3 separate regions of the Homo sapiens genome follow, and regions 1 and 2 are each linked to region 3. The links come from fine-mapping of genetic effects on gene expression. A gene starts in region 3. Each other region holds a variant in brackets. All regions are shown on one strand. Distances are from middle to middle.

The links.
Region 1: its variant is fine-mapped to the expression of PDLIM1 in whole blood (TOPMed, PIP above 0.99).
Region 2: its variant is fine-mapped to the expression of PDLIM1 in whole blood (INTERVAL, PIP 0.95).

Annotation. Positions count from the first base shown.
Region 1 is chr10:95,265,334-95,273,524 of GRCh38, forward strand. It overlaps PDLIM1 (PDZ and LIM domain 1), which reads right to left. Exons shown (of 7, transcript NM_020992.4): 2 at 6,300-6,451; 3 at 3,445-3,529. Among named protein-coding and RNA genes, the nearest start is that of PDLIM1, 22 kb to the right of the region's middle. The variant G/A (reference allele first, on the strand shown) is at 4,974.
Region 2 is chr10:95,247,994-95,256,184 of GRCh38, forward strand. The region is part of intron 4 of PDLIM1 (PDZ and LIM domain 1); the gene reads right to left. Among named protein-coding and RNA genes, the nearest start is that of PDLIM1, 39 kb to the right of the region's middle. RefSeq lists an enhancer at 6,697-6,876. The variant C/CT (reference allele first, on the strand shown) is at 3,241.
Region 3 is chr10:95,286,801-95,294,974 of GRCh38, forward strand. PDLIM1 (PDZ and LIM domain 1) reads right to left here and starts at 4,203. Exons shown (of 7, transcript NM_020992.4): 1 at 4,020-4,203. The coding sequence starts at 4,115. RefSeq lists enhancers at 2,720-3,039, 6,764-6,853, 8,162-8,174 and silencers at 3,761-3,870, 3,891-3,990, 4,041-4,430, 4,481-4,560, 6,204-6,273.

The DNA.
Region 1 (8,191 bases), 21 kb before region 3:
CCTGTAATCCCAGCACTTTGGGAGGCCGAGGCGGGCGGATCACCTGAGGTCCGGAGTTCAAGACCAGCCTGACCAACATGGAGAAACCTCATCTCTACTAAAAATACAAAAATTAGCCAGACATGGTGGCGCATGCCTGTAATCCCAGCTACTCGGGAGGCTGAGGCAGGAGAATCTCTTGAACCCAGGAGGCAGAGGTTGCGGTGAGCCGAGATTGTACCATTGCACCCCAGCCTGGGCAACGAGAGTGGAACTCTGTCAAAAAAAAAAAAAAAAAAAAAAAAAAAGATTTCTCTTTTGGCTGGGTGCAGTGGCTCACGCCTGTAATCCCAACACTTTGGGAGTCCAAATCAGGAGGATTGCTTGAGCCTAGGAGTTCGAAACCAGCCTGGGCAACATAGTAAGACCCCATCCGTAAAAAAAAGTTAGACAGTCAAGTAGCCTGTAGTCCCAGCTACTTGAGAGGGCTGAGGCAGGAGGATCATGTAAGCCCATGAGATGGAGGATGCAGTGTGCCATATCGTGCCACTGCACATCAGCCTGGGTGACAGAGCTAGACTCTCATCCCTAAAAAAACAAAACAGGCCAGGCACGGTGGCTCATTCCTGTAATCGCAGCACTTTGGAAAGCCAACGCAAGAGGATCACCTGAGTTCAGGAATTCAAGACCAGCCTGGCCAACATGGTGAAACCTCGTTTCTACTAAAATATAAAAATTAGCTAGGCGTGGTGGCACCTGCCTGTAATCCCAGCTACTCAGAGGCTGAGGCAAGAAAATCACTTGAACTCAGGAGGCAGAGGTTGCAGTGAGCCAAGACTGCACCATTGCACTCCAGCCTGGGTGACAGAGCAAGACTCCATCTCACAAATAAAAAATAAAAATAAATAACAAAAAATAAAAAACAACACAAAACTTCAGCAGTTATCAAAGAGTAGTTAAGTAAATTTTATGGCACAGCTACCCAAATAAATAATATATAGTAATTAAAGGCTATGGTCATGAAGACAGAGATTTACAGATGGGTGGCCTGGTACCCTTGCCTACATGTGCCGCAGCCAGGATGGTCATTCTTTCTTCTTCTCTCCATCACCATGGCAATTCCTAGGAGCAGCAGAGGATGCAGAGCCCCAAGGAAGGGTCTTTATTTTTCCGCCTTGGCTCAATTTTTCCCTGCAATTTCCTGTTTGGCAAGGAATACCCCTCTAAGCCCATTTTTCATCTTTAAAATGAAGAAGATAAAGCCTTCTTTACAAGGATTTGTGTGAGTTACTAGAGTGTCAAGTACAGTGCCTGGCTCGTGGCACATATTCAACCAGGGTCTGTTCCCTTCTCCCTCCACCGAAACACATTTCCAATTAGAATGGAAGTCAATGGAAAATTCAGGTTGAAAATTCGGATGATTTCACTTTCTAAAGAATCTTTCAAGAATGCATCTGGTTTGTACATAAAAGGAATATCTCTACCCTCATCTGAATACTGACTGGTCTTTCCAGAAAGCAGGCAGATTCAGGGCTTGCCTTTTAGAAGGGATGATGTAATTGTTTGGGCTTTGTATTTATCAGTCTCCAAGGAAACTCAATAATGAGGAAGTACAAACTAGGTGTGTAACTATGCTGACCTCAGATAAGCTGGGGTGTTGGTTGGCATTACATGAACCAACAGATCTTTTTATTATAGATGAACTCTGCTCTTACTCATTTATCCTCTACTTTAGAATGGCTGGAAGTAAAAGACTGGAAAAATGATGGGTGAGAAGTTTTTCTTACAGTAATAAAGCATTACTAGAATCACAAGAAAAATACAAGGGTTTAAAGTATTTGAGAATTTTTGTAATCTGAAGAGAACTACCTTCAAAAGATTAATACAGGTAACTACAGATTTAAAATGAAAATTCAAATATACTACAAATGAAAACTATAACTGAAATTTACATAATTACCTTATTTACATGAAAATGAGGATTTCAGATAGACCAAGTTAAAACGAAATCATTCCTTGTGTGTTATAAAATATGTAAAAATTAAAATTTAACAATTAAAATTTAACATTTATGGTAAATTTAATGAAGTAGCTGAGAACTCCCAAGGAAACTGAAACTAACTGTGGCATGTTTTAAATTAGTTTGCACAACTGCCAGTGTATAGACCAAGTGCCATTTTACGAACTTTCCTGAGAGGAGTTGTATAGAAGAATATGTTCACATCAGTTTTGAAATGATGCAAAATGATCCTTAAAATGACTCTTGGGATTTTTAATAATTATTTTTACTATCTTAATGGCAAAAATTTTATGTGACTTCGTTTTTGAAATTTTAATGGATTCTATTTGAGAAAATATGACTTATATCCAACCACCCAATTAACACACACTAATATACCAAGTGAGTTCAACTTCATACAAGTTTCTGTTTTATGTATAAAAGATAGCTAGCTATATATTGTATTTTAATTACATCTTAATTCACCATAAAAACTAAATAGTATCCCAAATTTAGAAAAATAAGTTAAATTTCAAATCTTCAACTTGGGTCAAATGCATAACCATCACAAACCAGTGTAAAATTTTCAAAAGGCATTATCAACATACCTAGTTTATCATTACTAATTCATTAATGTATCCAACAGACACATACTTTGAGACAAGTAGCATGTTGGGTGTGAGGAATTTTACAAAAGATGTTCTAAACATCTCTAAGTTTGTCCCTTATTTCAAAAACAATACCCATGCCTTGTAGATTATTTAGAAGAGGCACATAAGGCAGAAAGAAATAAAATCACCTACAATCCAATAATCCAACTACTGAGAGATTTATTCACAAATATGGGATCTTAGGGCAGTCTACTGTCCTGAGAAATTCTATCTGGGTGACAAATTGTACACTATGTACTGCTTTTTTTTATATTAATTGCTGCTTTATTTTAGTAATTTTAAAGTCTCACTAGAAGTTTCACTGTAACAAAAATAGAGATTTCCACTCCATGGCTCATGGAAACCAGACAGGGGCATACAGTGGGGAGAAGCAGGGCTTCCTATTACATATTCCCCGATTTCTTCTAGGCTCTAGGCCTCCAGACCTAAACTTATTTTCATCCCTGTCATGATTCATTTGTTGCTGAAATCCATAACGAGCTGAATAGCTCCTTGACTTCACTGTGATCCTGCCAACCCTTCCCACGCAGGAAGGCTTCCACCGGCTTCCCTTATCGCCTTCCGACCCCCTGCTTCCAGCCCAGGACACAGCGTCACTGCCCTGGGGTTTTCCAGCCCTATCCTCCTGCAGTTCCCTTACGGGAAGAACTGAACAAGAGCCAGATACCAGCAGAGACAGTGAAGGGTCTTATCCCCAGGCCTCCAGGGCAGGAAAAACAGGAATGTGCTGAGCAGTGTCAGAAACGGCAAAGTGCTGGGTGGTGAGAGCAGCGGCAACGATGAGCAAGAACTTACCTGGGGTTCAGAGGCTAAATTCATCTTGTATGGATGACGCTTCCCTTCCTCCGTCACCAGAGGAGACCAGACTTTATGTTCAGATCTGCAACAGATTAACAAAGCTGCTGTTTCACTCATGTAAAATAAATAATATATACCAAAGACAAACTGGAAAAATGCCCCCTCTTTCCTGGACTAGGCACTGAACTAGCACCCTCCCATCAGCTCTACCTTCCATTTGCCACCAGGTTGATCTTTTAAACACCCCAATCTGATAACATCCATGGCTGATGGCTCCCCAGCATAGCCCCAAGGGGCTTCCCAAGCACTTCATCCTCCCTCACCACACTCTGGGTAGCTGACACCAGCAGTGTGGTCTCCTCCATGTTCCTAAGCATGACTCACACTGCCCTATCTCTGCTCAGGATAGAATGGGCTTCTCCTCTATCTCAACCCAGTGTGTTTGGTCCAGACCAAATAACCAACTTATTTGTGAAGCCTGTTTGACCCAAATGAAAATAATGCCTCTTGGCCGGGCGTGGTGGCTCACGCCTGTAATCCCAGCACTTTGGGAGGCTGAGGTGGGGAAATCACTTGAGGTCTGGAGTTTGACATCAGCCTGGCCAACATGGTGAAACCCCATCTCCACTAAAAATACAAAAATTAGCCGGGTGTGGTGGCATACGCCTATAATCCCAGCTACTCGGGAGGCTGAGGCAGGAGACTTGCTTAAACCCAGGAGGCAGAGGTTGCAGTGAGCTGAGATAGCACCACTGCACTTCAGCCTGGGTGACAGAGTGAGACTCCATCCCAAAAAAAAAAAAAAAAGAGAAGAACGCCCCTCTTTTGCTCTTATAAACTATTTTCTTTGTACCAACCACAGAGCAATGATTTTACTTTAGTCTCAGTTTTCATTAGTGTCGTTGTTTCCTCTCTTGCAGGTAGAAAATATTTATACTTATCTTTATTTATTTTATTTATTTATTTTTTGAGACAGAGTCTCGCTCTGTCGCCCAGGCTGGAGTGCAATGAATGGCGTGATCTTGGCTCACTGCAACCTCCGCTTCCCAGGCTCAAGCGATTCTCCCAGCCCAGTCTCCCGAGTAGCTGAGATTACAGGCACCTGCCATCATCCCTAGCTAATTTTTTTGTGTTTTTGTAGAAACAGGGTTTCATCATGTTGGCCAGGCTGGTCTTGAACTCCTAACCTCAGGTGATCTACCCACCTCGGCCTCCCAAAGTGCTGGGATTACAGACTAGAGCCACCATACCTGGCCATACTTAACTTTATATTTGTCACAATGTCTATGCCAGATATACAAGATGTCCCTTTTCAACATGCCGGTAAACAAATAAAAAATCAATTAATCAATGAATGAATGAATGTCCTGAACTCGGGCTTGAAGGAGAGGATTTGGACAAAGATAGAAATGGAGATGAGAATGAAGGGCAGATGTGCTTTTGAGGGGGTAGTAATAACACAGTGTACCTCTCATGGGGTAGGTCTCTGAAGTGTACAAAATATTTTTATATACTCCCCCACACTC[G/A]ATCCACCTGCCAGTCCTGTGCCACAAAGCAAAAAAAAAAAAGCAAAAAACATACTTCACAGATGAGAATCTAACCAAAGGCTCCATGACAAAGAGCTGTGGCAGCTAAGGTTAGTGAGATAACAGGTGATCAGAATGAAACATCTGAATTTGATGCAGTAGGAAACAGGGAGCCAACTGAGGGTTGAACCAAATCACTTCCGAAATCCTGCCTTTGCGGGACCCCTTCCAAGGCTAAATGAAAGAAGAATGGAAATTCTACCCTAATTACAGCTCCCAAGGTGCTACCCTCATTCATTCTTTTATCCCCAGCGCTCCTTGCTTGTCATGTACCTAAAGTTACACTCAGTACTCTGCTGCTAATGTGTTCAAGTTTTTCTCTGTTATTGCAATCTCCTGGCATGGTACCCACTGCTCAGCACAATGCAGTAGCAGCAGCATCCTAAGGACATTTTTTTTTTTGAGATGGAGTTTCGCTCTGTCGCCCAGGCTGGAGTGCAGTGACGCCATCTCAGCTCACTGCAAACTCTGCCTCCTGGGTTCAAGTGATTCTCCTGCCTCGGCCTCCCGAGTAGCTGGAACTACAGGTGCACGCTACCACACCTGGCTAATTTTTTAATTTTTAGTGGAGATAGGGTTTCACCATGTTGGCCAGGCTGGTCTCAAACTCCAGACCTCAAGTGATTTGTCTGCCTCGGCCTCCCAAAGTGCTGGGATTACAAAGAGAGCCACCGCACCTGGCCAGGACATTTTACTTACTCAAAATTTTGGTTGAGTTGGATCAAGTGAAAATGCAAGTATCTTACTGAAAGAAGCCCACATCATAAGCACCGTGAAAATCAGAGGGGGGCTGGGCACGGTGGCTCACACCTGTAATCCTAGCACTTTGGGAGGCCAAGGCAGGTGGATCACCTGAGGTCAGGAGTTCGAGGCCAGCCTGGCCAACATGGTGAAACCCCATCTCTACTAAAAATACAAAAATTTGCTGGGTGTGGTGGTGCACATCTGTAATCCCAGCTACTCAGGAGGCTAAGGCAGGAGAGTCACTTGAACCCGGGAGGCAGAGGTTGCAGTGAGCTGAGATTGCACCACTGCACTCCAGCCTGGGCAACAGAGTGAGACTCCGTCTCAAAAAAAAAAAAAAAAAAAATAGAGGGGAAATAAGCAATCTGAAGTTCAAATTCCACAGACCTTTTGGCATGCCTATAGTATATACATGGCACTGAGCTAGGAGGTCTGGGGGATTCTGAGATAGGGAAGGCAGTCCCTGCCCACAAACAGCTTCTAGTCAATCAGAAATGAACAAAACGTTTCCATAGGCTTCACCTGGCTACAGTGAGAGTCAAGTTGTCTGTGCAGCCTTTGATTCTGTTCTGAGCTTCCAAGTGTGTCATATTGCTAGTATTTTCCCCATCAATGGCTGTGATTACATCTCCAATACATAAATTAGCTAGAGCCGCCTTGCTTCCAGGAGTGACCTAGAAAAAAAGGGGAAAGCAGGCTAGTTACTATTTGTCTCCAAACCACTAAGTTACCACCAAGTTAAGTATTCACTGATATGGAGCAAAGCCCTGAAAAAGAAAAGAGGGCTGAAATCATAGCTTAAATAATAACAATCATTTATATTATCATTGACAAAGAGGGCTTTTCTAATATGATCTCATTGTATCCCTATAGCAACCTTATGAGAAAGGAGGACAAATAGCAGTCCCCATTTCCAAGACCAGGATCTGAGGCTTAGAAAGACCTATGACTTACCCAGGATCACCCAACTAGTATATTATTATATTACTGGTCCTCCAACTAGTGTATTACTGAGCCAGGAAACAAACCCCGAACAGATCTGATGTCCTTCCCACTGAACCACGTTTGCTTCCTTAAAATTAGTTAACAATTACATTTAAAAAAACACACACACACACATTTAGAGAACATTATATACTATAATACCCTATTTCTTTAAAAATCTTAATAATGTTATATATACAAAAGAAAGTGGAAACACTGCACACTAAATTGTTCACAGTTATACAGTTTTGCAATGTTTTTTACAATAATATTGAATTACTTTTTAATTTAAAAAATTGTTGACCAGGCATGGTGGCTCATGCCTGTAATCCCAGCACTTTGGGAGGCCAAGGCAGGCGGATCACCTGAGGCCACGAGTTTGAGACCAGCCTGGCCAGCATGGTGAAACCCTGTCTCTAACAAAAATACAAAAAAATTAGCCGGGTGTGATCTCAGCTATTCAGGAGGCTGAGGCAGGAGGATCACTTGAACCCAGAAGGTGGAGGTTGCAGTGAGCCAAGATCATGCCTCTGTACTCCAGCCTGGGCAACAGAGTGAGATTTCGTCTCAAAAAATAATAATAATAATAAAATAAAAATTTAAAAAAAAATTGTTAAAAGCAATCAAGGATATCCTAAAGTATGGTAGTATAGGTTTATACTGGTTTAATCTCCCAAAATGACTAGGGTCATTCCCTATAGACGGCTGGTTTTCTGCAGACTGATGCTTCTAAAACCAGTGGTTCCAAATTGACAGATCATTGATGCTTGGGGGAAGCCAATCAATTACTGCAATAGGTCCTTAAATTCACCTGCCTACAGAGCAATACATGCGGACTCAATACATATCACATCTCCTACACTGATGTACAACCATTTTTCAAGTGAATACAGATGCTATTAGAATGAACAAGATCCAAACTCATTTTGAAATAGTACTCACCTCAGAGTACTATCTCTAACCAAGGTATCTGGTTAGATTTTCTAAACTAAGGTATACTAAAAATATTACTGTCATCATCCCAGGGTAAGTTCACAACTTTTTTTTTCCACATTACAAGACCTTCCTGGATGGGAATTCCAAGTCCGCAGGATCAAGGTGGCAGTAACACCCCCAGGCTCCCAGTGCCCACAGGGCTCTGGCCACCCTTTGGAGAAGGCCCTTGACTCTCGGGATCCAGTTGAGGAAGATCTTATGAACACCTGGGTGTCTCCTTATGGCTGAACCACAGGTAACAGGTTCTTCAAGGCACCAAACCAGGACACACAAGTTGGGTCCTAAACCTCAGTATCTGATGCAGTTTTCAGCAGCTACAGTTTCCGATTAGCCCTCAGCGCAGCTAGTGTGGTGCCGCTATTATGGTGCATTCCCCATCAGCACCCTGACCCCAAAAAATGAGGACAAGTTGATCCTTGAGGTCCCTTCTGGCC
Region 2 (8,191 bases), 39 kb before region 3:
CAGGCCTTGTCTTCCCCACCTTCCTCCTGTCATGCTGGGTGACCCAGAACAAGATAAGACAGGCAGAGCCTGCCTCTTTCCCTGAGGGCTCCACTTTCTAAGCAGTGGACGGTGACAGGGAGGTAGTCTCTCATCAGCTATACCTGTAAATCTATCCTCCATCTGACCCCTTCTCACCTCCCCACCTCCCCCAGGTCCAAGCCATGCCATGCTTAGGCCAAAGTGATGGCCTCTATTCAAAATATCAGAGTGATATTTTTTGTTTTTTAGAGACAGGGACTCACTCTGTCACCCAGGCTGGAGTACAGTGGTGCAATCACAGGTAACTGTAACCTCGAACTACTGGCCTCAATAGATAAATCCTCCTGCCTCGGCCTCCTGAGTGGCTAGGACTACAGGTGTGCCACCATCCCCCGCTGATTTTGTCATTATTTTGTAGAGACAGAGTCTTGCTGTGTTGCCCAGGCTGGTCTCAAAGTCCCAGCCTCAAGTGATCCTCCAGCCTCGGACTCCCAAAGCGCTAGGATTATAGGCATGGGCCAGAGTGCCTGGCCTAGAATGATATTTTAAACATGAATCAGACTGTGTCATGCTGTGGCTCAATGTATTCTCATTTGACTTAGCACAAAATATTTAGTTTTAATACTAAAATATATGTTTAATCAAATTCAACTTTTTTGGAGTAAATGTTATCACAGAGGAGAAAGTCCCTCACATATGTGACCCAAACTTCTCCCTCCACACACATCCCCTGCCAGCCCTGGCCCACTCTGCTCTACTGAGACCAGGCTTCCCGCTGTGCCTGGGAAACACTAGCTTCACAGCCTATGCACTTACTGCACCCTCAGCCTGCAATGCCCTTCCCAGGTGTTGTCATGGCTCCCATGCTTCATCCAGGTCTCTGCTCAAGTGCACTCCTCAGAGAGGCCTTCCTGACCCCGACTCCAAACAGTCCGCCACATCCCCACTATCACTCTTAACTCCCTACCTGCTCTCTCACCATGGATTCCAGTGTATTCCCTTATTTCTTTGTTGTCTATCTCCCCCTGGAAAGTAAGCCCCAGGAGGGCAGGAGCATGGCCTGTCTTGCTCCCCATCACATTCCCAGGCCCGGCTCAGTGCCTGGCACAGGTCACAGTTCAGCAGGCAGCAGGCATCAGGCAAGTGAACGAACACTGCAGAATGGGTCCAGGGCCTCCTTCCTCCTTGCTGTGCTCCCCCTGTTCCTGCAGGCTCACGAGGTCCTCCAGGGCAGCCAGCCTCTGAGGGTTGTGCCAGGGACATGGGCAGCCCCACCTCCTGGCCCCAGATCACCACCTTCCTCTCAGCTGAGCTGCTAAGGAGAAAGGCCAGTGTGCCCAGTGGAACCAAAGAGCAAATATCAGATGGTGGGGCAATTTATTGATGCAGATGGATAGATTTGTATATAAACAAGTTGTGCTTCCTGAGTAATAAAGCTATAAAGTCTCCAGCCCACCAGGCTGCCTCCCAGCTTTACAGATGCAGGCAGTGGCCAGGAGTGGTTTTATTCAGCAACTCTAAACAGACTCTCTTTAGGGCTGGAGCCACTTTCACAGGTGCAAATGAATTATATCAGTTACGCTTACTCATTTCCAGGGTATATGTTTTCCCTGGGTAATTCTCCGCAAGTTCCCTTTTCCTCTCCCTCTCTTCCTCTCCTTTCTTCCTTTCTCTTTTCTGAGACAACCTCTGGGGCACGTTCAGTACTCAGGTCCCCAGCTAAAGGCAGAGTCAATCATAGCAATCAAGGTCCAGGTGTTTCCCTTCCACTCCAACCATGTTCTCACAATAAAGGAAAAGGCACCCAAAGAGTGGCATATGCTTCATGGCTACCAAAGAAGGTCAGAGTTTAAGTAGCAAGATTCATGGGTTGGTCACTCCGGCCGGCTGCATTTGGGGAAGGGAAAGCAGCTATCCCTGCCTGTCCTGCCCACTCCTGCTTGGCCTCTTCCCCCACCTGCAGGGAACTGTGGGTGCCTCTCAGGGCAGGCAATGGGGCCACCTGGGGGAGTTGTTTTAACCAAGGGTCTTTCTTTGTCTCACTTTCCAGCCCTTTCTTTGAGTTATATGCCTGACTCTTTGAGTCCTGAGTTTGGAACTTGCCCCATAATAAGCATATTACATTATTTTTGGATAAATCTTTTTTCTATTACACTTAGGACTATTTTAAAATTGAGATCAGACTATGGAATGTTCTTGGGAAAGATTTTTCTTCTTCTTTGGTGTATGTTATGTCTGGAAGCCACCAATGGAACACACCAAAAAAATGACAGAACCCAGACCACAAGGCCATCACATATTCTTCCAGCAAATCACCTTGTGAGGGATTTCTATAATTTAAAAAAAAAAAAAAACTTACCATTTTTCTCAAATAATGATAGTATCTTTAAACCACTGGACAATTTATAAAGGACTCTCAATATCTATTACCTTACTTAAGGTATTGATACACCTGACTCAAAAATAACATCCTAAGATCCAACGTCTAAGTCTTAGACACTAGATTACAAGGTATTGACATGATACCACAATATCTTAAAAAATGATGACAAAAATATGAAGGAGAAATGGAGCAAAAAATTTCTCGTTTTTATATTAAAAACAGCAATGAAAGAATATTACAGTGATATGGCTTCAGAAAATATAATACACACCACTCAGTCTCCAGGAGAAAAAGTTTTGACGGCGTAACAGTGAAAATGAACACTTTCTTCTGAACCCACTCTATACAGTTTTAATAACGAGTTTAAGCAAATTCAACTACTTTGGAGTAACAATACGTTACACAAAGTTTCCTAGTTCTTGTTTCTCCCTGGGAGCTGATGTGTATCTGTTTCCTAAATGTTTAATATTTTCTCCCACTATTTTAGGACGTGACCTGAGGGCCCCAGGGTTATTCTAGCCAAGCCACTCCCATCCCTGCCAAATAAGATGGCTGACACAGCCAGGCGTAGGAGGATCCTAGTGGTCTTTAGAACATAAGCAGAAACTCCCCTTGAGCCCACCTCCCAGAGGAGGATTTTGGAGGCTGAGCCTGCAGACCTTATGTGTTTCTCACACCTGCTCCAGCCAAAAGGGCAGCTGGGGTGAGGGTCAGAAGGACGAGGAGGATGGAAAGCAGTACGCCCATGGCTCTGGAGCATGGGTCAGCACAGCAACCCTGGGATGAAAGTCTACTCCATCAGAACCATGAAGTGCCCAGAGTGAGGATATAAGGGG[C/CT]TTTTTTTTTTTTTTAACTTGGGCCATCATCTGTGGCAGCAACTTAATTATCTGTATATAAATCTCAGCTAGGCCAGGTGCGGTGGCTCACACCTTTAGGAGGCCGAAGCAGGTGAATTGCCTGAGCTCAGGAGTTCGAGACCAGCCTAGGCAACACGGTGAAACTCCTATCTCTACTAAAATCCAAAAAAAATTAGCCAGGTGCTGCAGCGTGTGCCTGTAATCCCAGCTACTTGGAAGGCTGAGGCAGTAGAATCGCTTGAACCTAGGAGGCAGAAGTTGCTAAAACAAGACAGCCATAAGAAAAAAATCCTCATTGCTGATACAACCTTAGTAGGGTCATTTTCTCACACAGTAAGAACATTTTGATACTTTAATAAAACTACCTGTATGTGAGATAAAAATTGGAATAGAAACGGGGATTACGTGAATTATTGAAAGCATCCAGACAGGAGAAGATGGTCTCCTCATAAAAATATTTTTCCTGTCTGAGAAGATGAGGTAGACATATTTTTCCCTGTTTCACCCAGTAAAACCAAAAACCCTGGACATTACATATAAAACAACATGAGAAGACTCTGACAGGGCAACGGAAGCCACACTGGCTAGGGACCCCACGTCCTGAGGACCACGATGGTGAGCTCCCAGGGTGTTCTTGTTTCCTTGGACATCCCAGACATGGAGCGGAGGGCAGCAACCTGGAAAGGGCAATGGGCACAGACAGAAGAAGTCTCAAGAGGAGCCTGCTGTATCTGACCAAATAACCAGAAAGGGGCAGCCCAGCAAAACACAACACATTGAAACAACACTATTCTCCAGCCAAATGCCAGAAAAGGCCAAGTGGGGGGTCCAGACTTCTAGTCTCACCAGGCTATGATGTGGTTCCCCAACTATCTCACTGGGGTAGATTCAGAGAAAGCCCAATAGAGAGTCCATATTTCATCCTTACCCAGCTGTAATGAAGAAAACCTAGGAGAGAATCAGGACTCTCACCACTGCTCAGCAGTGTCTAGGCCACCACTCACCCATAAGGTGTCAGTGGAAGCCATATGGGGAGCCAGAACTCCCACCCCATCCAGCAGTAATGAGTGGCCCCAATGACCTCAGGTGTGACATAGGCAGAGTGGGGAAAGTGGACTTTCTACCCCCACCTGTCAGTAATGAGGCAGCATCCCCAATCCCATATCTGAGAGGAAGCCAGTGAATACAGAAGGTTTTAATGCGATCCAGAATCTAATAACATAGTAACAAGAATGTTCAAGATTCAGTTGAAAAATCACATCTCTCAGAAGAACCAGGAAGATCTCAAACTGTAAATAAGACAATAAAGAGATGCCAACACCAAGATGACAGAGATGTTGGGATTATCTAACAAAGATGGTAACACAGTCATCATAAAAATGTTTCAATGAACAATTATGAGCACATTTAAAACAAATAAAGTCTCAACAAACAGAAGATATAAAGAATGAAATGGAAATTCTAGAACTGACAAAATAACTGAAATAAAACCACAGTGGATACACTCAGCAGCAGCATGAAGGAGACAAAGGAAAGAATCAGTGAACTGGAAGGTGAATATTAGAAATTATACAATTTCAAGATCATAGAAAAATAGAATGGGGAGAAAAAAAAGAAATGAAGAGCCTCACAAACCTATGGGAATATATAAAAGATCAAAAATTCATGTCAATGGAGTCTTGGAAGAAGAGAAAAAAGGTGGAACTAGAAAAGTACTAGAAGAAATCATGTCTGAAGGTGTCCTAAATTTGGCAAAAGACATAAAGAAGTGAAGTGAACAGGAAACAGGATAAACCTAAAAAAATCCACACCAAAACATATCATAGTAAATTTCTGAAAACTACAACAAAGAAAGAATTTCCAAAGCAGTAGGAGAAAAATGACGCCTTATCTAGAGGGGAAAACCAATTCAAAAGACAGCAGATTTCTTATCAGAATCCATAAAGAAAAGAAGGAAGTAGCACAATGCTTTCAGCTGCTGAAAGAAAAAAAACTGCCAGCCTAGCATTCTGTATCCAGTGGAAATATCCTTCAAGAATGAAGGAGAAATCAAGACATTCTCAGATACAGGGAAACTGAGAGCATTTATCTCTAGCAAAGCTACCCTAACAATGTTTAAAGGAAGTTCTCTAAATAGACGAAAAAAAATAAAAGAAGGAACCAGCCAGGCATGGTGGCTCACCTGAGGTGAGGAGTTCAAGACCAGCCTGGCCAACATGGCAAAAACCTGTCTCTACTAAAAATACAAAAATTAGCTGGGCGTGGTGGCGGATGCCCGTTAATTCCAGCTACTCAAGAAGCTGAGGCATGACAATCACCTGAACCCGGGAGGTGGAGGTGGCAGTAAGCGGAGATCGCACCACAGTAGTCCAACCTGGGTGACAAGAGCGAGACTCTGTCTTAAAAAAAAAAAAAAGAAGGAATCTTGGAATATCGAGAATGAAAAAAGAACCCATAAGCAAAAATATGGGTTTAAAAAATACTTGCCCTCTCAATATATTCTAACTCTTGTTGACAAGTAAAGCAAAAATTATAACACTGTCTGATGTGGTTCTAAGTGTATAAAAGGATCTATTTTAACTATATTGTAAGCAGGGGAGGGCAAAGGTTCACAAAGAGAAGCAAAGTTTCTATACTTCTTTGAACTCCTGAAATGATGACGCCAGTAAACTGTGATAAGTTATATATACACAATGTAATACCCAGATAACTACTGAAAAGGTTATACAAAGACATAGAATAAAAAACACTACAAATAAAAATGTTATTCTAAAAAAAATGATGTCAAATAACCCACAGGAAAGCAGGAAAAAGAAAACAGAAATGGAAAACAGAAAACAAAATAAAATACCAGACTTAAGCCCTAACATATCAATCATCGCATTAATGTTCATCATCTAAATAAACCAACTGAAAGACAGAAATGAACAGGGTAGATACAAAACAGTACATTTTAAAACATGACCCAAATACATGCTATCAACATAAAACTCATTTCCAATATTAATGTATAAGCAGGCTAAAAGTATAATGGTAGAGAACAATATATCATGCCAATATTAATCAAAAGAAAACAGGAGTGGCTATATTATTAATAATATCTGATAAGTATACCTCTGAACAAGTAAATTTACCAGAGATGGAAATGGACATTATATAACCACAAAAGGGTTAACTCACCAACAGCTATAGCAATGTTAAATGTGTGTGCATCAAACAACAGAGCTTCAAAATATGTAAAGCAAAAACTGATAGAACTGAAAGGAAAAGAGACACATTCACAATTTTAGTTGAAGACTTCTATACCCCTCTCTTAACAACTGATAGATCAACTAGACAGATAATCAGAGAGGATACAGAAAAATTCAACAATACTATCATGCCAGGCACGGTGGCTCACGACTATAATCCCAGTACTTTGGGAGGTCAATGCAGGAGGATTGCTTGAGCTCAGAAGTTCGAGACCAGCCTGGGAAACATGGTGAAACCCTGTCTCTACAAAAATTACAAAAAAAATTAACCAGACATAGTGACACATACTTGTAGTCTCAGCTACTCAGGAAGCTGAGGTAAGAAGATCACTTGAGCCCAGGAGGCAGAGGTTGCAGTGAGCCACTGCACTCCAACCTGGGCAAGAGAGAGAGACTGCCTCTAAGTAAGTAAGTAAGTAAGTAAATAAATAAATAAATCAGAAATGAAAGAGACATTACAACTAATACCACAGAAATAAGGATAATAACAGACTACTATGAACAATTATACATTAACAAATTAGAAAACCTAGAAGAAATAGATAAATTCCCAAAAACACAACCTACCAAGACTGAGTCATACAAAAATTAAAAATCTCTAAACAGACCTATAACTAGTAAGGAGGTTCAATCAGTAATCAAAAACATCCCAACAAAGAAAAGCCCAGAACCAGATGGCTTCACTGGTGAATTCTATCAAACAATTTTAAAAGAATTAAAACTAATCCTTCTCAAACTCTTCCAAAAAACTGAAGAGAGAATGCTTCCAAACTCATTCTATGAGGCCACTATTACCCTGATACCAAAACCAAAGATACTAAAAAAAAAAAAAAAAAAGCTACAGACTGATATTACTAATGAATATTGATGCAAAAATACTCAACAAACTACTAGCAAACCAAATTCAACAGCATATTAAAAGGATTAAACACCATGACCAAGTGGAATTTAATCCTGTAATGCAAGGATGTTTTAACATATAACAATCAATCAGTGTAACACATCACATTAACAGAATGAAGGACAAAAACTACAGTCATCTGAATGCAGAAAAAGCATTTGACAAAATTTAACAAACTTTCATGATAAAAATACTCAACAAAACAGGAATGAAAGGAAATTACCTCCACATAATAAAGTCCATGTATGAAAAACCCACAGCTAACCTCTCACTCAAAATGAAAAACCAAAAGCTGTTCCTCTAAGATCAGCAGCAAGGCAAGAATGCCAACTTTTACCACCTCTTTTCAACATAGCATTGGAGGTCCTAATCAGAGACCTTAGGCAAGTCAAAGAAATAAAAGGCATCCAAATTGGGAAGGAAGAAGTAAAATTGTATCTGTTCAAAGATGCGATGATCGAATACACAGAAAACCCTAAAGATCCCCCCCCACTACACACACACACACACACACACACACACACACACACAATTGGAACTAATAAATGAATTCAGCATAGTTGCAAAATACAAAATCAACAAACAAAAAAGTTGTTTCTATACACTACCAATGAATAATCCAAAAAGAAAACTAAGAAAACAATCTTGTGTAATCATCAAAAAGAACAAAATACCTAATAAACTTAACCAAGGAGGTGAAAGACTTGTACACTGAATAGAGTACATTTTAAAATTATAAAACATTTTAAAATGTTTAAAAATATAAAACATTGTTGAA
Region 3 (8,174 bases):
TGCTAGCTTTCCTCTCCTCTGTGGAGCAAGAGTTAAGGCATGGCCTAAGAATGTGCCAGTCCTATCCTGATCCCAGTACACAGCAATTCCTTGGTGCTTTTCCCAGTCCTGGTCAGCCTAGGAGAATATGACCCAGACGCTTAGATGACACTCTCCTCTCAGTCATCTACCTGGCTGCAATACCCTAAAGCCACTGTTCTTCCCTCTTGCCTCCTCAAACAAACCAGCAAGGTTGGCATCAGGAGTTTAGGGAGGGGAGACTATCTGGTCAGAGGGTGATAATGTAGTATGGGCTCAGGCATTCACTTACATGTCATTCTCTTTGGTTTGTCCTCTTCCCCCTCTCTCCTTAAGTCAGCTGTGAGCAGCTGAAGTCGCTAATATTTCCCAGGTATCAATTTCACAGACCAAGGGCATGCAGCACAATGGCCATTAAAACATAATGACCCTTTTTGGACATTTCCTGCTTTTCATAATCTGACAGACAAACCCTTCTCTTTCAATCTTTACGACATGATGTAAAATCTATCTGAATCCGGAAATACCACTCTTAAAAATCAGAAATGACCCTCTGGCCACAGTAACCATTATTAAGCATCCCTTGGGATACTTGAGAAAAAGCATAAGCATTTGCCACAGAACCGCTCAGCTCTTAGCAAAGGGTTCCCCAGGACTCCAGAGACAAATGAGCAACTCCTCCAACTAAGGGCATCCCTTGATCTTGGCCTCACCCTTTCCTGTCTTTTATCAGTTGCTGGGAGAGAAAAACAGTCAACATAAACTGAGTTGCAATGTTGGCCTGGGTATTTCTCTGAAGGCTTCCCTTGAAAGTAACTAGAGGGAAGGAGAAATTAACATGGAAAATTTTTTTAATTAAAAAAATACCTCAAGGAAATGGGCAAGTGTTGATTTGAAGCAGGAACTGACAGAAAAAAATATCAGAGAACAGTGGCAAATGTGTGGCTGGATCATCAGGGAACACAAGGCAAGAGCACTAAACGAGAATGTGGGTAAAAGAAGCTAGCCTATGTCCACTTAAAGTTGGAAACCTGGGTTGAAATTTTAAGTTGATAACGATACTAGATGAAAACATTAAGGAGCTAAAGAAGCTGTTCACACACACACACACGTGTTCTGTATGAGTCTGTTCAGAAACAGGCAAAATTAAGCTATGGTATTTGGGATACCTAATTTAGGTGGTAAAACTATGAAGAAAAGCAAGGAAGGGATTACCATAGGTCAGGATAGCGTTACATTTAGGGAACTTTTGGGTGCTGCAATATTCTATTTCTTGACTTGGGTAGTGATTATACAGATGCTTGCTTTATAATCATTTGCTGTGCATTTGTATTTTATGATTTTTTATTCCACAATAAAAAATAAGTTAAAAAATAAAAAAATTGCAAGTACATAAGATTAGCATTATATTAAGAAGCTTTAGCAGTTTAGCAAAAGACTGGAGCCAATACCACAATAATTCATGCAAGAGAAAGCAAACATGGTTATTTAAATAAAAGGCACTCCTCTCCCAGCCTAATTTTATGGTTTGCTTTGGTGTGGAGACTCAAAGTCTATCATATACAAAACTATACCAGCAAATTGCCCAGGATGATAAATAATGTAGCATACCTACCAATCAGAAAGTGTGTACAGCTCTTTGTCAGTGCTCACATTTCCTCACTATCACTATTTACGGAGCACTCTCACATACCTTAACTCACAGCCAAGGGCTGGTGCTATCCCCACTGCAGAGGTTTTTTTTTTTAAGTAGCCTCAGACAGTGGAAGATTCACCCCAGGTACAGCTCAAGCAAGAAGACACTGGACCAGCACCAGATCTCAGATGGCCACACCAGGGTCCCTTTATGACAATGACTTTCCCATTCCCATGAGGTGAACAGGCTCACAATTTTTCCATGTATTAATAAGGAGCTGAAGAGAAACAAATAAATTACTGTCAGCATGAAAATGTTACCTCTTCTGAGTCACTTCCACTTTTCAATTAAAGCACCTGCCAAGGGCATTATAAAGATTAGTTTCCATCACTAGACCATGAACACCTTGAGAATGGAGCTGTGCCCTCTCATTTCTGAGGCGTTTGCACAGTTTCTGGAATATGATACGTGCTCATTAAACACGTGCACACGCCATAAATAAATAATATAAATAATAAATGAGTGAATATATGAAGGTAAAAACCAATGAATTCACAGTGTGGTGTTTTCCACCCCATTCCATCATTCACTCATGCATTAAGACTTTTAAAAGCAGCTAAAGTGAAAGGCAGTAACTGCCCTTTTAACAGATTGCCAATACATCCTCCACTACTTAAAAAAGGGTTTCATGTCATATATAAATCTCAGAAGTGGAGAGGGCTGACAGGTTAATTATAGACACAAAGAACAGGGACAAATGGACTATGAGGTAAGCGAGTTGAAATGTGCAGACACAATGTCCTCCCTGGACAAGCATTTATTAATAAGCCTGCAAGGATTTACCCAGCCCGGCCAGGTACAGGTCTGCTACCAGGCTCGGGGACGATTCTGGGGAAGGCACAGTTCCTGCGCTTGAGGAATTAGGCTGGTGGCTGGAAAGGCAGTGTGTACCTTTGAGAATAATCAGAGGTCTCTGTGGGACGAGGCAAACAGGTGGAAGATAAGGCCCAAAAACTGGCCCGCCTACTCTTTTAGGGGGGTGAGATAGAGAAGACCTCCTCACTGGGCCAGGCCAACCGGGAAAGAAGCATGGGTAGGACTGTGGCTGGCAGACAAGTCAAGAGGAGGCCACCAATTCTTCTCCTGCACCTCCCACCAAACTCCTTCAGCTGCTGGACGCAGGAGCTTGAGTCAAAAGGATCCATAAGGATATTTCCCTTTCTTCTCCACCCTTCCCCCAACCCCAAGTGAAAAAGAAGGATGTTTAGAAAGTCTGGGAGACAAGCTGAAGGGCAGCTTCAGCAGGCAGATGAGCCCAAGAATGGAATGTGCCGCCTACAGGCAAGGAGTGGCCATGGGTGGGGAGAAAGGGGACTTCTTTTTCTCCCTTTCCTCATTCGAGGTACTTACTGAGTCTCTTCTTGGTGCCCAAGCACTGAACGTGACATCTCTTAGTGGGACATCAACCTGTGTTTGGCCAGATTAAATGGCCAAAGCCCAGACCTCTGAACACTGAGTCTGGGTCTCCCTGGGGGTTTCACTTTATTAGGGGGGCAATGGTTCTGGTGGCCCCTGATTCAACGTGAGTCCTTCTAAAGATCCGAAGCCCCTCTTAGATTTCAAGCACCTCAACCCCACCCCAGGTGGACACCCCATCGCAGTATCTACTCATGCCCTGAGAAAAAAGGGCTGGTGCGGGGAGGGGAAAGAGATAATCTGGGAATGCTAGGAAGAATGACGGCGGGGCCACGTTCTGCAGAGGGGAGAATGACCAAGAGGGTTTACTTGAGTTTGTTTGTTGTGTTTATTTCCCGAATCCAGCACATTCTCCAAAAGCCATTCGAGGGGCGAGCCTCGGCCGTGGGTCAAGTCCAAAGAGCGTGTTTCGGTTGTTTTTTTAGGTTAATCCCACTTGCCCCCCACCCCAGTAAACTTCCCACCCACCCCACCTCACTTTCCAGGTCTTTCCTGTTGCGTTCGGCTGCACTGCGATCTGGGAAGAAGGGAGAAGTGCCATCTCCCAGCGCGCGGGATCTGCGGGGACCCTCGTCCCCTCGCTGGTTGACAAAGAACTAACACCCGCCCCGCCGCGCTTCCGGGGCCAAAGAACGAAAACTGCCTTCTTTTTTTCTGGCGGACACGGAGCGCGCCCGCGGCGGGCCGACCAGCCCGGGAGCGCAGCCTCCGCGAAGGGGCGGCGGGGAGCGGCGGGGCCCGGGCGCGCGGAGAGCGCTCAACTAACAGCGCACCTGGACGCGCCCGGCTGCGGTTCCGACTCCGTCCCCGACCGCGCCCGCGGGGCCCCAGTCTCCGCATATCACCTCCCATAGCGCCCCGCTTCCACGCACGTCCCAGCTGCTCTTACCCGGGAAATGGCGAGAGGCTGCTCGAAGTCCTTGCCGCCCACGAGGCGGAAGCCCCACGGCCCCGGGCCCTGGAGGTCTATCTGCTGGGTGGTCATGGCGCGGCTGTGGCGGGCGACGACCCGCGGGGACAGACGGGCAGGACGCGCGGAACAGCTTGCAGGGCACCCCCGGCGGCTGTCGGAGAAAGAGCGGCGCGGCGCGGGCCCGGGGAGCCTGGGGCTGGCGGGGGCAGGGCAACCGCGAGGGCCAGGGCGGGGGCGGCTCCGCCCAGGCCGCGTAGCCGCCCGCCGCCCCGCCCGTCCTCCCGCCCGCAGCCGCTCCCCGCCCTGCGCGCCGGCCTGGGGGCCCTGGCCCGGAGTCCCGCCGAGAGAGCGCGAGTCAGATGCGGGGCCGGGGCTCTCAGCAGCTCTGCCCGGGACCCCACACCGCCTCCCTCCCTCCTGTACGCACGGCCGCACCGCGGCTCTCGGGCCCGGGGCGGGTGCTAGGTGAGAGGGAAGCAGGTCCTGACAGCGAGACAAACTCGCGCCTCGTGCTTTGTAAAACGAGAAATTTGAAGTGCTGTGCCAAGTCAGCCCTCTGAGGTCGGCTCCGACTTCCCATTTGCTTTTTGTAATCGGTAATGATGTTTAAAAGGTGCTTTCGAACGATCTCATTTGATGCTGAGGCAACCGGGACGTTTAGTCCCATTTTACAGATGAAGTAACTGAGTCTGCTCAGTAGGTGAGAAGACTTGCCCGACGCTACACCACTCGTCAGCATCTGGACCACTGCCCGGGCCCAGTGCTGCAGAACCCCATCCTGGAACTTTTATAATGCTAATGAGACCATCACTCAGGTTATAACTGAACTTCAAGGCCTTCCTAGAAATCTTTCCTCCAGGCTGGAGTTCATGGTAGGTTCTGACCTCAACAGTTCAAACCTCAAGTTTGGGGCGGGCCAAGGGCCAAGTCAATGCAAAAGAAGAGCTGAGTCCGGGACCTGGATTCCCAGCCTCCCACCAGCTTCCTAGCCAGGCTCCCCCTGACGCCCTCCCGGTGGAGTGCATTCTCCACGCCGGACCAGACCATTTCTCATGCTGTCCATGGCGTCCCCACCTCACCACCAGTGAAAACCCAGATCCTTACAATGCCTACAAGGCCACCCCTAGAATGGCCCCAACTCCCTCTCTGACCCCAACTCCTCCTGCCCTTTCCTCACCTGCCCCCCAGTCTGCCAGGCTGTGCTCCTTGCTCCTAACTCAGGGCCTTGCCTCAGGGCCCTGTCTGCAATGCTGTTCTCCCAGACATCCCCACCACTCTCTGTCATTTTCTAGGGGCCGGACACGTGGCTCACGCCTGGAATCCCGGCACTTTGGGAGGCTGAGTCAGGAGGATCAGTTGAGCCCAGGAATTCTAGACCAGCCCCAGCAACACGGCAAGACCCTGTCTCTACAAAAAAATTTAAAAAAATAAAAATTAACCAGGTTTGGTGGGGCACACCTGTCCCAGCTTCTAGGGAGACTGAGGTGGGAGGATGGCTTGAGCCGGAGAGGTCAAGGCTGCAGTGAGCTGTGGTCGTGCAACTGTACTCCAGCCTGGGTGACAGAGTGAGACCCTATCTCAAAAACTAAAAAATAAAAAAAATGCAAATGTCATTTTCTGAGGTCATCTCTGAGCATCATTTAAGATATCCTCTCTAGAATGCTCTATTACCTTCCCCTGCCTTATTTTTTTCTTTTGTATGTATCACCATCTGGCATTCTCTATATTTTGTATATTTATTTGTTCCACCCCCACTCTTAAGCATTAATTCCATAAGGACAGGGGTTTTTATCTGTTTAGATCACTGCTGTGCCCCAGTGCCTAGAATAGTGCCTGGCACATAGTACTTAATGTATATAACACATTGGCCATCCTCAGGACCACTTACCCTCTCTGGGCCCAGTTTCTTCGCAGTTTTCTTGGCACCCATTCATCCTGGTACCCAGGCCCCAGCACAGTGCTTGGCATAGAGCCCATGCTCAATGAGTTTGTTCCCTGTGCAGCTCTGTCTCCCTGTGATCCTGGCCTACCTACTGAAGAGCCCTGTGCACAGATTTACACATAAAAAGATTATCTTGCTTGTCCAATTGTGTGACAGCACAAATGCCTATGTTTGGGAATAGTTTGTTTGCTTTTAGAAATCCAAGTGGAGGGCCGGGCACGGTGGCTCACACCTGTAATCCCAACACTTTGGGAGGCCAAGGTGGGCGGATCACCTGAGGTCTGGAGTTCGAGACCAGCCTGACCAACATAGAGAAACCCATCTCTACTGAAAATACCAAAAATTAGCCGGGCGTGGTGGCGCATGCCTGTAATCCCAGCTGCTCGGGAGTCTGAGGCAGGAGAATCACTTGAACCCGGGAGGTGGAGGTTGTGGTGAGCCGAGATCACGCCATTGCACCCCAGCCTGGGCAACAAGCGCGAAACTCGGTCTAAAAAAAAAAAAAAAAAAGGAAATGAAAGTGGAGTTGTATGATTATACATCCCTCTCAACCTCTTGCAACCTGATATTCTTTCCTGAACCTGAGAAAAAGAATGGTGTTATAGCCAGTAACCAGCCACCTGCTTTATGAACACCAAAAATACATTCTCTTTGTTTAAGATTCTGTTGATTAGAAAGCATGACTGTGTTTCAAGTCCCTGCAGAATTTGCAGGAATCACCGAATTCTGAATCTGTCCCTAGATGTGTAACCATCTTGAATATTTTCTGTCCTAGAAGGAGAAAAGGGTTGAAAAGTCACAGCTTCTGTGCTTCTGAAGGCAGAGACTGCCTTTCATTCATTCCAAGTGCCCTGCTAGCATGGACCTCAATCACAGTAGGTGTCAATAAGTGTTTATTCCGTACAATAGTCTATACAGACATAGTGCACTAATGTGTTAGCAAAATGTCTGTGAGACTTGAGTCCTCAGTTGCTTTGTTTTTAAATGTCCTCGGTTGTAGTCTGGCTCTACATAACAAGAGCTATAAAACAGTCAGCCCTTTGACCCAGTCATCCACTTTCTGGGCAACAATTCCAAGGACATAATTTTTAAAAAGAAAAATGCTGTATGTATACAGATATTTATAGCTGCATTATTTATAATGACAAAAAACTGGAATCAACCAGTAACAGAAAAGTGGCTAAATATGGTATGGCCGTAAGAGGGAAGAGTATGCAGCATGAAAATAACCAGGAAGACTGTGAAGAGACAGGGAAATGTGTTTTCAAAATATGTAAAAAGAGTGCAACAAAATTATTCGTATACCGTGTTAAAAAATAAAAGCTTATCTACCTATTGAAATTAAGAGAAAGTAGGAAAAGTAGTGGCAGACAGAATGAGAATTTTTTTTAATAATTGCCTCTAATGATGATGTAAAATTTTCATAATAAACATCAAAATGGTCCCAGCTCCTTGGATGGAGACTAAATGCTAGTCTTTCTCAGGATAGAGACCTGATCATTTATCCTTTTTTTTTTTTTTTTTTTTGAGACAGAGTCTCACTCTGTTTCCCAGGCTGGAGTGTAGTGGCACGATCTCCGCTCACCGCAACCTCTGCCTCCCAGGTTCAAGTGATTCTCCTGCCTCAGCCTTCCAAGTAGCTGGGATTACAGGCACCTGCCACCACGCCTGGCTAATTTTTGTCTTTTTAGTAGAGATGGGGTTTCACCATGTTGGCCAGGCTGGTCTCGAACTCCTGACCTCAAGTGATACACCCACCTCGGCCTCCCAAAGTGCTGGAATTACAGCGTGAGCCACCGCGCCCGGCCTCCATTTATCTTTTTTATCTCCTCTTCTCTCCCCCAACCAGCTAGCTCTGAACTGGGCACACAGCATATATACTCAGAAAATACCCAGAAAAAGATTGACGACCCTCACCCCAAAACATAAACAATCTTCTCTTACCTTAAACACCATTACTTAAACACAATTTATTCATGCTTTCCAGTTCCCTCAGACCCTCGACTCCTGCCCAGTGCTAGTTGAATGGCCTTAAGCAACCTCTCCAAACTTCAGTTTGCCTTATTTTTATTATTATAACACATTCCATGAAAGTTTGTTAACCTAAACAGCCTAAATTCAACATCTGGGTGTTCTAGGGCAAGCGGGGAGAATGAGAAGAGGGAAGCAAGGAGGGTGGAAAGTGCAAG